Linked DNA regions of Homo sapiens: region 1 is linked to region 2. Evidence: fine-mapped expression QTL. Tissue or cell type: esophagus mucosa. Region 2 holds a variant in brackets; the other region holds the start of a gene. All regions are shown on one strand. Distances are between the middles of the regions.

Region 1 (8,186 bases), 550 kb after region 2:
ACAAATTTAAGTGGCTATAAATTTAACCACTGTCCCTTCTCTAATCCAAACCATGCCTATCCAGCTTGTCTCTGCCCAAGCCCCATCTCTCCCCTTTGTAATATACTCCAAGCACCCTATTCCACAATGATCCTTTCCCTCCTCATGCATGAGCCTCATCTTTGAATTTAGCCCCGTTACCGTGTCTTATGTAGTGTTTATCTCTCAATCAGATTTTACATTTTCAGAGAACTTCTTTTGCATTTCTCATGGACCCTAGCATAAACATAGACATATAAAAGGCACTCAGACACTTGATGAATAAACAGACTAAATTATTTCCATGAATTATATTCAAGCTTCAATCGTTTATCTTTTTCACCTTCCCCAAAATGAAGATAAAAACTTTGTCATAAAGCTTTTAATGATAGGGGACAGTGAAAGGAGGTGAAAGAAAGGAAATGAAGAAAAGAAAAGGAAAGGAAAGAGAAAAAAGAAAAGAGAAAGAGAAAAGAAAGAAAGAAAGAGAAAGAGAAAGAAGGAAAGAAAGAAAGAAAGAAAGAAAAAAGAAAGAAAGAAAAAGAAAAGAAAGAAGGAAGGAAGGAAAGGAAGGAAGGAAGGAAGGAAAGAAAGAAAGAAAGAAAGAAAGAAAGAAAGAAAGAAAGAAAGAAAGAAAGAAAGAAAGAAAGAAAAGAAAGAAAGAGAAAGAAAGAAAGAAAGAAAGAAAAAGAAAGAAAGAAAGAAAGGAGAGAGAGAAAGAAAGATAAAGAATGAGAAAGAAAGAACCTATTCAAATCTGAGCTGCTTTTGAAGTGTGGGCAAATCCTCAGAAGTCTCTGGTATAGTAAGGCAAGGGAATTCCTTACTCTGCCTGCCCATAGCAAGGCTCAGAGGCCTTCAACTGTGCTTTGTTGCTAAGTGAAATCCCCACAACCTTTCTACAAAACATGTTCTTGATGCACATCAAAGAAGATAGAGAAAGCGGGAACAGGTATCCCAATGCTGGTTCTATCCTTGTGTTCTTTAACCAACTTATTGAAGTTCAAAAGAGAAGGACTTTTACAGAATTCCATACCTGAATCATATATAACACATTTATTCAACAAATGTTATTTCCAGTATTATAATAATAGCTAACATTTTTGAAAACATGTTTTTGTTTCATGCATTGTGTAAGCGCTTTCACACATCACCTTGATAACACTCTATATAAGGTAAATACCATAACTATTCTTATTTTTGGAGATGAGAATGCTTAGACAGACTGAATAAGAACTTACTCCAAGGTAGCAAGAACAAGTCACAAAGCCAGAATTTGTACTTAGGTCTCTGATGCCAAAGCCCAAACTAAACCACCTCCTATGGTTACAAGATCCAACAATACTCAAATATTTTTATCTTTGAATTTTAATGTATTAAAAATAAATTTAACCCACCTTTTCAGGAACTATTCCCAAACCTATTCCAAAGGCACTAACTTGGGTATTTAATTATGTTTCTCTTTGCCCAAAAGATGCTTTTTACCTCAAACTTATCGTAAATAGTAAGCTGAGTCAGAAGCAACTCAAACAATAGACTAAGCACTAGTGCCCCTGGCAGAGATGCTTGACACTAAGTATTCAGGTTCTCTTTCAGGATTTTTTTTTCCTGTTAGAAATCTTAAAAATTAAAAACAAAATGTCAAAGCAATGTTATGAAAAAAAGCTGGAACAAGGGATTTGCAGGTTCTGAGGCAGCAAACTGAAACAAATTGCCTTAAGCCAATTGACTTCAGTATGCCCAGCACACTCACAGAAAACATGCATCAAAAAAGGGGCTGCATTAAACATGGGCCCTACTGGCAGAATGACCAGTTTAGGTATAATTTCCCTTAAAAAGCTCATGGAAAAATTCAGACTTGATTGACAATATTCTTTTATATTCATTCCAAGTATAGGCCACATGCCATTCAGACTTTGCAGACTGTTGAGCAGAGGATAAGAACTCTAGTAATGCTGTTATTGTAGGACTTCCGGCTATCCATTATCTGTATATACCAGTAACTTCCCTCTAACATCGAAAGCAAGCTTCAGAGAAAAGAAAAAGGCCTAGGAATCCTCTAAAGAGTTTTCCAAACAGCTTCACCTGTTCCATTGACAGAAAAATCTCAGGCAGCACTTAAAGCAGTGACAGCAATGAGGCAAGAGCTTAATGATAGCTATCATTATCAGCATGATTATTTCCATAGTCCCAGATCAGTCTTAAGAGGCGGCAAACAATCAGGTGATATAGTTTCAGGGCTAGATAAAGGCTGTCCCCTACCCTCAAATAATACTTCTACTACGGTTGCTGGTGCTCGAATTTTCACCCCCAGAAAAGAATTCCTTTGGCTTTAGGCTCAGTTTGTGAAAATGCAAAGTCAAGATTGATGGAATTTTAAACTTATTTACATCAAGATCACCCAAATTTGTTAGATATCTTCAAGGCAAGTTTGCTAAGGAAAGGAAAGGGAGGATGTGAGGGCATAAAAACAATCTTAGGGCAAAAATGGATAAATGAGGAGCCAGTTTTCCAGTGAGACAGACCCAATTATGCAAACAAGGGAGTGGGCTCCAGGGTCAATATTAATTCGCAAATTAGTGGCCAGTACCAATTTAGCACCATCGCTCATCTCCTTCTCAAAATCATCTATGATATAGCGGTGATGCTGCTTTATTTACAGGGCAACTAACCGAAAGGTCAGGACAACGAGTTTGCAATTTACAGTCTCTGGACAGGGTTGAAAGTCAGTTTTTTTTTGTTTTTTTTTTTTTTTTGAGATGGAGTCTTGCGCTGTCGCCCAGGCTGGAGTGCAATGGCAAGATCTCAGCTCATTGCAACATCCACATCCCGGGTTCAAGCGATTCTCCTGTCTCAGTCTCCCGAGTAGCTGGGACTACAGGCGCGTGCCACCACGTCCGGCTAATTTTTGCATTTTTAGTAGAGACGGAGTTTCACCATATTGGCCAGGCTGGTCTCGAACTCCTGACCTCGTGATCCACCCGCCTTGGCCTCCCAAAGTGCTGGGAATACAGGCGTATAAACTGTACTGAGCCACTGCGCCCGGCCGAGAGTCAGTTTTTACAAGCACTCAGATGTGGGCCCGAAAACAAATCAAAACAAAAGTCGTGACTTCCCAGATCTTAGGTAAGGCATAGATTCGTCTGCAAGGAGGGCCGAAATCTCTACCTATCAGGCAAAAGGCAAAAAGCCCGGAAGGGTCGGGGAGAAGCAAGCTGGAAGGCTCCAGGAAGTGGGTGGGGAGGAAGCTGCCGGGGTTGGAGCCAACCCTAGCAACAGCAGGTTTGCACACGCCTAGCAGAGGAAGTCCCGGGCCTAAGCGTGCAGCGGTCACAAGAGCTTTTGGCAGTGCTGTCCCCTTCGATTCCGGTCATCACCCAACCATCCAGCCCGGGTTTGGGGCGGAAAACCGGCTTGTAAAGTGGGCGGCGGCCGGTGTTCCCACAGCTGAGTCACAGCCCAGCCAACTTTTACAGCGTTTCCCAGAAAGAAAATACAAAGTCTCAGTCCCGGAGCCCACCGCTTCTAATTCCCGCTCCCCTGTGTCACCTGACCCGGGGTAACTCCAGCCCCACTACTGAGATATTTCCCACTCATGGCGCAACTTCTTGCCTGCGCAAAGCCTCGTGGTACCCCGAGCGCTCTCCAAGTGCTACCAACCCCACAGATGAGAGGGCAGGAGAGAGGGGAAGGGCTGCGTCCTCACCTGCAGGACACGGACACCTCCACCCGCGTGGCCGGGATGGCAGCGCTCAGCTGGTTCAAGTCCCCGATGCCCGCAGTGCTGTTGTAGCGGCTGTCCATATTGGGAGGAGGCGCCTTGGACTTGTCCGGCGCCCACAACCACAGCTCGGGCGGACTGAGGGCTAGCTCCCGTCAGGCGGGGATGGGGGTTGAGGGTGGAGGCAGAAGAAGGAGGCGGAGGCAGCGCGCGGGATGGGGGAGGGAAGGGAGGAGGCGGACCTCCGCGCAGAGCCACGAGGGAACCGCTAGCCAGTCCTGGGTGAAACTGACGCTGCCAGGCAAGTGGCGCGCGGGGATCCCGGTTTCCCAGCCCCCTTCCGGCAGGCAGCAGCCCGGGCGGGGGACACACTCCGTGATCCCCTCCTGGCTGGAGGGGTCAGGCTTGGTGGACCCAGCAAGCAGCCTGATGGAGAAGGTGGCACCAGACGCAGACCCCTACCGTCCAGGACCGCAAGCCCTCGCCGGCTCTGCGTGCTTTTAGGTTTTGTCTCCACCTCTGCACACCCACACTCGCCTCCTGGGCCGCGACAGCTTCCTTCTGTCAATCAGGTGTGGACGGGAAGGTCTCGAAGTTTCCTCGCCTGAGTTGAAAGCTGGAGGTGGGGGCACCTCTGCCCGTTCCTAACTGCCCCGTTATAAGGTCCCCCTCCCCACAATTGGTTCTCACCTCGCCCTCGGAGCTCTTGGGAGATCCCTCCGTCCCTCCTACTGTGCCCTCGGGCAGATGAGTCTGGTCCCAGCTTCTGGACTGCCCACTGTCGGCCACTTGAGAGTTGGGGACGGTGGGGCATTGTGACGCTCTCCAACCTTGGAACACGGTGGCAAAGTGGCCGATCAATATATGGGACAAGTGGGGGCGGGGGGGCGGACTCTAAGGTGGAAAAAACAATACTACTTGGGATTTAAGGAAGCAATCTGGATTCTGTCTCCCCTTGGTTCTTCGGAGCTTAGAGGTCTAACGGCGACATTCCTCCTACAGTAAGGGCTCTTCTGGGTCCCTCGTTTCCAAAGGCATGAAAGTTCTGACCTGAAAATGGGGGCCGGGGAGGGTGATGTCACAACCATATAACGCAGCTCCTTCAGCCGACTCCCACCCGCAAGAACTGAGACCTGACGGATAAAAGCAGAGAGGAGTCAGAGTGAGCGCTGCGTTTGGGAAACTGCATTCCAGGGCAGCAAGACTGGTGCCAAGACGGAGTCGTGGCAAAAGCATCCGGAGGTAGACGAGGCGCCCCTCCACTGCAGGGACCTTTGTTCCCCGCGCCTTCCCTCCTGCCTCACCCGAGCGCCTGCGGGTCCCGGGAGCTCGCCACCAGGCGGCGACGGAGAACAGGATGCGGCGCAGCTGGAAGGCAGAGGGTGGAGAGGGGGCGGGTGTCCGTCCGATTTAACGCTCCAAGCACGGAGTTTCCAGCTGGTTGGGCTAAGTCTGGGAGGAGCAGTTTTTGCGGTGGAGGACTTGCCTTGCGTTGTAACATTTTAATCCACTTGCAGCCTCCTGCCTAGAGAATCTATAGAGGCGGGTGAGAGTGTGTAGGTGCAGTCTTGCCGATTCCCCTGCCGAGTGTACTTCCCCTGTTTCTTCTTGCTTTCCTTTCCTGATTTCCCCACCCACCGCTTTTTCTTCTTTTTTTTTCCTTCCTCTTGTCCTATTACAAATTAAACTGTAGTTTACTGCGATTTGGAAATGCCCTAAAACCCCAGGCATTTCTATTATGCTGCTCAAAGTTAATTTGGCATAGAGATCTAGGTTTTTTTTTAAGCTCACCAGAATTTTACTTTACAGAAGCCTACTGAAGAGATGAAACTTGAGAACTTTAGTAGTCAACATGTGGGATACTTACATCCAATTTGTTTCCACTTCAGTGAGGTATAACATATATAATGAACTGCACTTAAAGTGCATCCATCATTCGATAAATGTTGACTCATGTATCTCCCTGTGAAGCCATCACCAAAATCAAAATAATGAATCATTCCATCACCCAAAAGTTTTCTTACGTCGTAATCAGTACCTCCTTTCATCACTGAAACAACCCTCTAAGCAACCACTGATCTTTATGTCACTATAGAAGAGTTTGCATTTTTAAAAATTATGTATGTGGAATCATAAAGCAGGTAGTATTTTTGGTCTGGCTTCTTCCACTAAGCAAAGTTCTTTTGAGATTCATCTATGTTAGCATCAATAGTTCATTCTACTTTTTAAATATTTATTCATATATACAAAGAAATAAATTTTTAATTTATTTTAAATTAATAAATTTCATTTATTTAATGAAATAAATTTTTAATTTATTTCATTGTATATATGCGCTATAAATTGTCCATTCACCTGATGATGGACACTTTGGTTGTTCGAACTTTGGGCAATTACAAATGAAACTGATATGAACATATATGTACAACTCTTTCTGTGGACGTATGTTTTCATTACTTCTGGGTAAGTACCTAGGAGTGGAACAGCTGGATCATATGGAATGTGTATGTTTAACTTTTTAAGAAACTATTAAGGCCAGGTGCGGTGGCTCATGCCTGTAATCCCAGCGCTTTGGGAGGGTGAGGTGGGCGGATCATGAGGTCAAGAGATCGAGACCATCCTGGCTAACGTGGTGAAACCCTGTCTCTACCAAAAATACAAAAATTAGCCGGGCATGGTGGTGTGCGCCTATAGTCCCAGCTACTCCGGAGGCTGAGGCAGGAGAATCTCTTGAACCCCTGAGGCAGAGGTTTCAGTGAGTGGAGATTGATCGCGCCACTGCACTCCAGCCTAGGGACAGAGCGAGACTCTGTCTCAAAAAGAAAAAGAAACTATTAAACTTTTTTTTCAAAAGAGTTTTACTACTTTTCTTTACCACAACAGTATATAAGAGATCTGGTTGCACACATCCTTGCCAACATTTATGATGGTCTTTTAAATTTTAGCTTATCTAACAGATGTGTAGTAATATCTCATGTGGCTTCATGACAAATGATGTTGAACGTATTTTCCTATGTCTTTTTGCTATGTGTATACGTATCTTCTTTGGTGAAGTGTCTTCATATATTTTACTTATTTTTTTATTATGTTGTTGGTTTTCTTATTTCTGAGTTTTGAGAATTCTTTATTCTGTATCCAAGACCTTTATCGCATGTGGTTTACAAAATATTTTCTGACAGTCTGTGGCTTGTGTTTTCATTCTCCTGTCTATCAAAGAGAAGAAGTTTCTAATTTTGATGAATCTAGTTCTTCAACGTTATCTATTATAAATCATAATATTGATGTCAAAACTAAGAAATATTTGTCTAATGTGAGATCACAAAAATTATCATCTTCTATACTTTCCCCTAAAATTTTAGTTTTAGGTTTTACGTTTATCTCTATAATTTATTTTGGTTTTTCTAATCAAAGTTCTCATTTTTACACATTGTCATCAGATTTTGCTAGCACCATTTGTTGAAAATACTACCCTTTTTCATTGAAAAATCTTTGCATCCTTTGCCAAAAATTAACATATATCTATGAGTCCATTTTTTAGACTCTATCCTATTCCATTTACCTATTTGTCTTTCTTTAAGCCAATGCCACAGAGTCTTGATTACTATAGCTTTAAAATAACTCTTAAAGTCAGGTAGTATAAATTTTCCAACTTTGATCCTCTTCAAAATTGTTTTTTCATTTTTAATCCTTCTCATTTTCATATAAATTTTAGAATCAGCTAGACAAGGTCCACAAAAAGTCTTGTTGAGATTTTCATTGGGGTTGCATTGATTCTATGGACAAATCAGAGAATAATTGACATCTGATCCAAATTTATCTTCTGATCTATGAACATTATATATCTTTCCATTTATTTAGGTCTTCCTTAATATATGTCAGCAGTGGAGTGGTGTGCTTAAGGAGAGAGAGACTTGGAAAAATACAGACCGAGAACAAGGCCATGTGGAGATAGAGGCAGAGACTGAAGTTGTACCACCAAAGGCAAAGAATATCAAGTATTATCAGTAACCACAGGAAGCTGGAAGAGGCCAGGAAAGGTTTTTCTTAGAGACCTTGGAAGGAGCCTGACCCTGGAACACCTTGATTTTAGACTTCTGACCCTCAAAATTGTGAAAGAATAAATTTCTGTTGTTTTAAGCAATTCGGCTTGCAGTAATTTGTTACAGCAGCCCTAAGAAAAGTAATACATATCGATAACATTTATTATTTCCATTTTGCTGACTCTTTCAAGTTCTGTGCTTATAAATTCATCATAGTGAAGTAAGCTTTAAATGATAAAACTTTGAAAGTATACTCAAATTCTGTTGCTATAGTTAGCACAATACAGAAAGGAATATAATTTTTAAAAATAAATTTTAATAATATAAATATAAATTATGACATGTCTAAACTTTTATTTTGGAGATTTTATAATAAAAAGTTTATATTTATTAAAATTCATTTAAAT
Region 2 (8,186 bases):
CATGGTACTGGTACAAAAATAGGCACATAGACCAATGGAATAGAATAGTGAACCAAGAAATAAACCCAAATACTTACAGCCTGCTGATCTTCAACAAACCAAACCAAAACAGTAAGTGGGGAAAGGACACCCTTTTCAACAAATGGTGCTGGGATAATTGGCTAGCTACAAGTAGGAGAATGAAACTGGATCCTCAGCTCTCACCTTGTACAAAAAGCAACTCAAGATGGATTAAGGGCTTAAATCTAAGACCTGAAACTATAAAAATTCTAGAAGATAACATTGGAAAAACCCTTTTAGACATTGGCTTAGGCAAGGATTTCATGAGCAAGAACCCAAAAGCAAATGCAATAAAAACAAAGATAAATAGCTGGGACTTAATTAAGCTAAAGAGCCTTTTGCACAGCAAAAGGAACAATCAGCAGAGTAAACAGGCAATCCACAAAGTGGGAGAAAATCTTCACAATTTATACATCTGACAAAGGACTAATATCCAGGATCTACAATGAACTCAAACAAATCAGTAAGAAAAAAACAAACAATCCCATCAAAAAGTGGGCTAAGGACCTGAATAGACAATTCTCAAAGAAGATATACAAATGGCCAAAAAACATGAAAAACTCCTCTGCATCACGAATTATCAGGGGAATGCAAATCAAAACCACAATGCAGTACCTCCTTCCTCCTGCAAGAATGGACATAATCGAAAAATCAAAAAAACAGTAGCTGTTGGTGTGGATGGGGTGATCAGGGAACACTTCTACACTGCTGGTGGGAATGTAAACTAGTACAGCCACTATGGAAAACAGTGGGGAGATTCCTTAAAGAACTAAAATTAGAACTACCATTTGATCCAGCAATCCCACTACTGGGTATCTACCCAGAGAAAAAGAAGAATGAATTAACAGCATTTGCAGCAAACTGGGTGAGACTGGAGACTATTATTCTAAGTGAAGTGACTCAGGAATGGAAAACCAAACATTGTATGTTCTCACTGATATGTGGGAGCTAAGCTATGAGGATGCAAAGGCATAAGAATGATACAATGGACTTTGGGGACTTGGGGGGAAGAGTGGTAGAGGGGCAAGGGATAAAAGGCTACAAATAGGGTGCAATGTATACTGTTTGGATGATGGGTGCACTAAAATCTCACAAATCACCACTAAAGAACATGCTCATGTAACCAAATATCACCTGTATCCCAATAACCTATGGAAAAAATATAAAAAGAAGGAAACAGCTAAGCAATGTGTTGAGAAAAGAGTATTTCAATGAGAGAGAACTTAAATGCAAAGACCATGAGATCTGTACAGATGTTATCTCCTTTATCCTCACTATGTTTCTGTAAGGGAGGTAGTGTTAGGCAAATTTTATAGATAGCAAAATGGAACCACAGAACTAACACACATAAGATCACTTTGTCAGCTAGCAAACAGGATGCCATGATATGAGCTCAGGAGTCTTTGACCACCACCAGCCTTCTCTTTCTGCACCCCCATGCTGCTTCGTGGGATCTAAAGCGCAACTTAAATGCATGTCCCTGCAAGGAATTCCAGAGGAAGAGAGGTTCCTATCCCAAATATAGGTAAATCTCCTAGATGGTTCTGGTTCTTTGTTTTCTTTCCACTAATCAATATGCAAGAAAGACTTATTTGGATCTATTTGTTTATTAATTCATTCAATAGATTTTTTGAGTGTCATTGCATAAACGTACTATTTGCATTTAAAATTCAGAATGCAGCCATGGTAAATAGTATGAACTATTTTCTTTCAAGGAATTGAGAGTGGTTTTGTTTTTAGTATATTGTCTGGAAATCCTAGCCGTATAATCCACTTTACCAAAAGTTACATGGAAGGATATAAAACTATTATAGATTAAAAGTCTTCCTGTCAGTTGGCTGAAAATTATCTGTAACATTTAATATGTGACTCTGTTTGGAAAAAAATATAGCCAACCACCTTTTTAATCCTCTTTTCGATGTTTTGGGAAACATAAAGTTGGGATCTTTTCATTCATTTGCAAAATAAAACAGTATTTTTTAAGGCATTGATTTATATTTCATTTAAGGCATTGAATTGTTTTATTATTGAGCCTGTCTCTGAACTCTGAGAAATTCCAAGGGAAAGAATTAAAGATCTTCAATTCAGTCTTGCCTAAATCTACTATTTTCAACCAACTTTTTTTCTGCTGTGCTTTCTTGCGTATTTTCTTAATGGATAGATAGGACAATGGTACAGCAGAAATAATGAATGTTTATCTACCACTTCCATTAAATATGTCAATGCTTTTATGAAAGGAAATCTATGGTTACTTAAGCCAATGCCTGCACTTAGTACTCAGCCATAACCGTTCTCATACCTGGAATCTAAAGAGGTAGCATCAGTAATCTGTACACACTAAGTACTTAATATTGCTCAGTGGAAAGAGAAATGCTGTTATATATTACTCTACATTTTTCATAGTCTTTATAATGTTTTATATCCAAATGTATCATTATGTAGTTTCACTGATCAGTAAGAGAGCTAGATCGTGTAAGCTTTATAAGAACGTTGGCTTTTACTCAAAGGGGATGAGAAACTATCAGGGGATTTTGAGTAGGGATGACATCATCTGGCCTTTGTTTTTTAACAGAACAAATCTGGCTGCTGTTATGAGTGTAGACCAAAGGCTGGATGGATAGAAATGAGGAAATGAGATAGGAGGCAGAGCAGTAATTTTGGTGGCAGGTCATAGTGCCTTTGTATAGGGTAACAGAATATGCTAGAGCCTAGAATACAGGCATCAAGCTGTTATGAGCTTGGCATTTTTACCACTGTATCCCCAGGGTGTGGAATCATTTCTGGAGTATAGCAGGAGCTCAGTAATTCTTGCTGCATGCATGAATGGATGGATAGACTGACAGTTTTTCACACTTATGTCTTCTCCCCATCTGTTTATTACTTAAGTTTTAACATCTAAGCTACTTGCCTCATCCTCACAGTTTTTAAACTAAAGCAAAAGTGAAACAAAAGCAAAACAGCCAAGTTTCTTCTAAATTTAATTGAATTCAACAAGTCTTTTTTTAAAGCACTTTTATGTGGTTTCTTTGGGCTATTAAGGATATCAAATGCCAACAGAATGTTCTAAGACTGTTAGATGAGATTGTTGCTTAGGGTCACAGCTATGCCACAGCACCACAATTTACTTTAAAATTAAGATTGCTACATAGTTTTAATTTCCTCCTCAGAAGGGCAATAACCTTTCAATGAATCAGACTCGGCTTTTTCTGCTTACTATAAATGGGACCATGTGACCATTACATTACAAAGTGCATAAATGGCAGGCTATATTAGAAAAGTTTGGGGACAAGGAGCACAAGAATGTATTGGGCACATAACCTTTTTGTGTGATAAAGAAGATAAATAAGAAGACATGCAAACAGATGTGTTGATACATATAAAGAAACACTGAATAGATATAGAAGCAACTAAAAAGGCTGATTGCAAGGCTCAGGAGATAAATTGGATGGACAGGGCAAACTTTTTGTTTTCAATTTTTTTTTTATACTTTAAGTTCTAGGGTACATGTGCACAATGTGCAGGTTTGTTACATATGTATAGATGTGCCATGTTGGTGTGCTGCACCCATTAACTCCTCATTTACATTAGGTATATCTCCTAATGCTTTCCCTCCCCACTCCCCAAACCCCATGACAGGCCCCAGTGTGTGATGTTCCCTTTCCTGTGTCTAAGTGTTCTCATTGTTCATTTCCCACCTATGAGTGAGAACATGCGGTGTTTGGTTTTTTTTCTTGGGATAGTTTGCTGAGAATGATGGTTTCCAGCTTAATCCATGTCCCTACAAAGGACATGAACTCATCCTTTTTTACGGCTGTATAGTATTCCATGGTGTATATGTGTCACATTTTCTTTTTTTTTTTTTTTGTATTTCCACTGTTTTATTTTAAAAAATGAGTAATTTATTATAAGTATATTTAGGTATCACTGTTTTGTCTAATCTTTTATTTTATTTTATTATTATTATACTTTAAGTTTTAGGGTACATGTGCACAATGTGCAGGTTAGTTACATATGTATACCTGCGCCATGCTGGTGTGCTGCACCCATTAACTCATCATTTAGCATTAGGTATATCTCCTAAAGCTATCCCTCCCCCCTCCCCCCACCCCACAACAGTCCCCAGAGTGTGATGTTCCCCTTCCTGTGTCCATGTGTTCTCATTCTTCAATTCCCACCTATGAGTGAGAATATGCAGTGTTTGGTTTTTTGTTCTTATGATAGTTTACTGAGAATGATGATTTCCAATTTCATCCATGTCCCTACAAAGGACATGAACTCATCTTTTTTTATGGCTGCATAGTATTCCATGGTGTATATGTGCCACATTTTCTTAATCCAGTCTATCATTGTTGGACATTTGGGTTGGTTCCAAGTCTTTGCTATTGTGAATAGTGCCTCAATAAACATATGTGTGCATGTGCCTTTATAGCAGCATGATTTATAATCCTTTGGGTATATACCCAGTAATGGGATGACTGGGTCAAATGGTATTTCTAGTTCTAGATCCTTGAGGAATCGCCACACTGACTTCCACAATGGTTGAACTAGTTTACAGTCCCACCAACAGTGTAAAAGTGTTCCTATTTCTCCACATCCTCTTCAGCACCTGTTGTTTCCTCACTTTTTAATGATCGCCATTCTAACTGGTGTGAGATAGTATCTCAGTGAGGTTTGGTTTGCATTTCTCTGATGGCCAGTGATGATGAGCATTTTTTGATGTGTCTGTTGGCTGCATAAATGTCTTCTTTTGAGAAGTGTCTGTTCATATCCTTC[A/G]CCCACTTTGTGATGAGGTTGTTTTTTTCTTGTAAATTTGTTTGAGTTCTTTGTACATTCTGGATATTAGCCCTTTGTCAGATGAGTAGATTGCAAAAATTTTCTCCCATTCTGTAGGTTGCCTGTTCACTTATGGTAGTTTCTTTTGCTGTGCAAAAGCTCTTTAGTTTAATTAGATCCCATTTGTCAACTTTGGCTTTTGTTGCCATTGCTTTTGCTGTTTTAAACATGAAACCCTTGCCCATGCCTATGTCCTGAATGGTATTACCTAGGTTTTCTTCTAGCGTTTTTATGGTTTTAGGTCTAACATTTAAGTCTTTAATCCATCTTGAATTAATTTTTGTATAAGGTGTAAGGAAGGGATCCAGTTTCAGCTTTCTACGTATGGCTAGCCAGTTTTCCCAGCATCATTTATTAAATAGGGAATCCTTTCCCTATTGCTTGTTTTTGCCAGATTTGTCAAAGATCAGATGGTTGTAGATATATGGTGTTATTTCTGAGGGCTCTGTTCTGTTCCATTGGTCTATATCTCTGTTTTGGTACCAGTACCATGCTGTTTTGGTTACTATAGCCTTATAATATAGTTTGAAGTCAGGTAGCCTGATGCCTCCAGCTTTGTCCTTTTTGCTTAGGATTGTCTTGGCAATGTGGGCTCTTTTTTGGTTCTATATGAACTTTAAAGTAGTTTTTCCAATTCTGTGAAGAAAGTCATTGTTAGCTTGATAGGGATGGCATTGAATCTATAAATTACCTTGGGCAGTATGGCCATTTTTATGATATTGATTCTTCATACCCATGAGCATGGAATGTTCTTCCATTTGTTTGTATCCTCTTTTATTTCTTTGAGCAGTGGTTTGTTGTTCTCCTTGAAGAGGTCTTTCACATCCCTTGTAAGTTGGATTCCTAGGTATTTTATTCTCTTTGAAGCAATTGTGAATGGGAGTTCACTCATGATTTGGCTGTTTGTCTGTTACTGGTGTATAAGAATGCTTGTGATTTTTGCACATTGATTTTGTATCCTGAGACTTTGCTGAAGTTGCTTATCGGCTTAAGGAGATTTTGGGCTGCGATGATGGGGTTTTCTAAATATGCAATCATGTCAGCTGCAAACAGGGACAATTTAACTTCCTCTTTTCTTAACTGAATACCCTTTATTTCCTTCTCCTACCTGATTCCCCTGGCCAGAACTTCCAACACTGTGTTGAATAGGAGTGGTGAGAGGGGATATCCAACAGGGCAAACTTTTTAATAGATTTTTTATATCATTTTGATGATCATGTAAATTATTACCTATTTAATGAGTATATAAATAAATAAAAATGACATCTTTTAAATAGCTGTGGGGGGCAAGGGGGTGGGGACAGTAGGGAAGAAGGGCCTAGGGAAACTTGAAGTGAAACAAGTGTTCATTTTGTCACTTTTCCAGCCCTCATCAACTGCATTTGGAGCTGAGACTTCTCAGATGAAGTGTATGTATGTAAACATTAGTAAATAATAACCAATCACATTTTGTTCATCTTTTTTTCTTAAGGAATAAAGAAGCCTATGTTCATGAGAATGCTGATTCTTAAAGGGCTAGAAAGGCCAGTTGAAAAAGGCTAATCTGTAGAGATGCCTGGGAATTCTTTGATCTTTTTGGAGGCTAAAAGAAGTAAAATTCTGCTATGGAAATTGTCCTATTATATTTCTGCTTTCAAGAAGGGGCTACAAGATTATGAGGTTTTGCAACATTGCCCTCCTAGTCCTGTGTACATTGCTGTAAAGACTCCCAGGCATGGAGGCCATCAATGGCACTGTTTCTCTTAGCAGTTATTTGGGTGTGAAGTTCCTCACTCCTGCAAGGCTCAGCCTGAAGCAGCATGTCTACATGACCCACCTGCAGAATCTCCCCACTTGTCAGTAACAGCTGTGAAATCTGTCCCTGTTGTCTTTAGGTAAGAAATTTCACCAATGACAGTAACACCTTGCTCTTGTGTAGAGTTTTATATTTTTCAAAATGTTTTGACCTGTGTTATTTCTTCTTATGTATTCAGAGAAACTGAAAGATGGAAAAGATCTCAGATGCTGTGACCCCGATGTAACAGATGGAGAAATTGAATCCAAGAGATGAAGTGACCACTTTGCCTAAAATCAAATAGCCATGTAGCAGCCGAGCTAAAACAAACATTCAGTCCTCCTGAATCCTAACTCAGTGATTTGTCTTACTATTACATAATAACATCCATTGTTTTCCTGAGTCTCCCCTATCATTTTATTATTCTTCTTGACCCATTCATATTAGTTTTTTTCTTTTATGGGTTAAAGGTGACCTTAATCAAAATTTGATACTTACATAAGTATGATATAAAATAACTTATATCTATATTTAATAATTTCTTATTTTAGTTGATGCTTTCAAAAATTGCCAGAAAACAGATTATTTTTGCCACCAAGCAGTTACAGTTTCATCTTCATGTTCCCTCTCTTAACATGCTGAAAAATTAAGCATAAATAGAAATGCTAATTAGAGTTGTCTTCCTTGTCAATGCTATGATTTATATTTGACCTGTTTCCTATCAGATTTGCCACAAGCTAGAATCTTCTGAGCATTTCTCCCTCATATATGTTCTCTACCAGTCAGCAGACACTAATAAAGGGTATCAAAATCCTGGCAAGAAAATGTTTCTTAAAGTAGTAGCTGATGCTAGACACTAAGTAAGTCAAGTTTCCTATTGCATAGTGAAAGAGAAAAAAAGCTTTTATGTCTAAATTCAGTTTTAGTAAAAGGGAAAGCCTTATATCCAGGTCAAGGTCCAATCCACTAAGATTTGAATCTATTGAGGTATTGTATCTTAGAATTCAGAGCTTGGCATGCTTAATATTTAGAAACACTTTAAAAAGTTAAAAGCATTGCACAGTTAGAGTGACATCACTGCAAAGGTGAATATTTTCAAAGGATTCTGATTCCATTTTGACAGCTTTCTTTACTTGACATTCATAGGCTCCACACTTACTAAGGGCTGACTTGGTACCACAGCACTAAAAGGTACATCCTCTGGTTATTAAAAGGAGTATGATGAAAAGTATTACTTGGGAGCATGTGGGACTTCCTCTTGATTGATAAATAAAATACTGTTTTCCTCCCTTACTGATAATCTCACTCCGTGTTGCCAATATTATAGCAGTTTTCTGTATGATTTCTTACTTGAAAATGCTATGGTAGAAGTGAGAGTCTGAGTTTTTTCCTGGCTCACTCTTAAATGTATCCCCAATATCTCTTTCATTTTCTAAATTGGGGAGGAAATTAGGACCCCAGCTTCCAACTATCTTAACTGTATTCAGTAAAACTTTTTTTCTACTTAAAAAATTGTGTA

What was found. PIP is the estimated chance that this variant, and not a neighbour inherited with it, causes the effect.
Region 1: it holds the start of CPNE8, and the variant in region 2 is fine-mapped to the expression of CPNE8 in esophagus mucosa (GTEx, PIP above 0.99).

Annotation. Positions count from the first base shown.
Region 1 is chr12:38,901,713-38,909,898 of GRCh38, forward strand. CPNE8 (copine 8) reads right to left here and starts at 3,879. Exons shown (of 20, transcript NM_153634.3): 1 at 3,725-3,879. The coding sequence starts at 3,822. It overlaps CPNE8-AS1 (CPNE8 antisense RNA 1), which reads left to right and starts at 4,000. Exons shown (of 2, transcript XR_007063275.1): 1 at 4,000-5,285; 2 at 7,598-7,880. RefSeq lists a silencer at 3,864-4,033 and an enhancer at 5,164-5,423.
Region 2 is chr12:38,348,185-38,356,370 of GRCh38, forward strand. No RefSeq gene overlaps it. Among named protein-coding and RNA genes, the nearest start is that of ALG10B, 36 kb to the left of the region's middle. RefSeq lists an enhancer at 2,566-2,645. The variant A/G (reference allele first, on the strand shown) is at 4,834.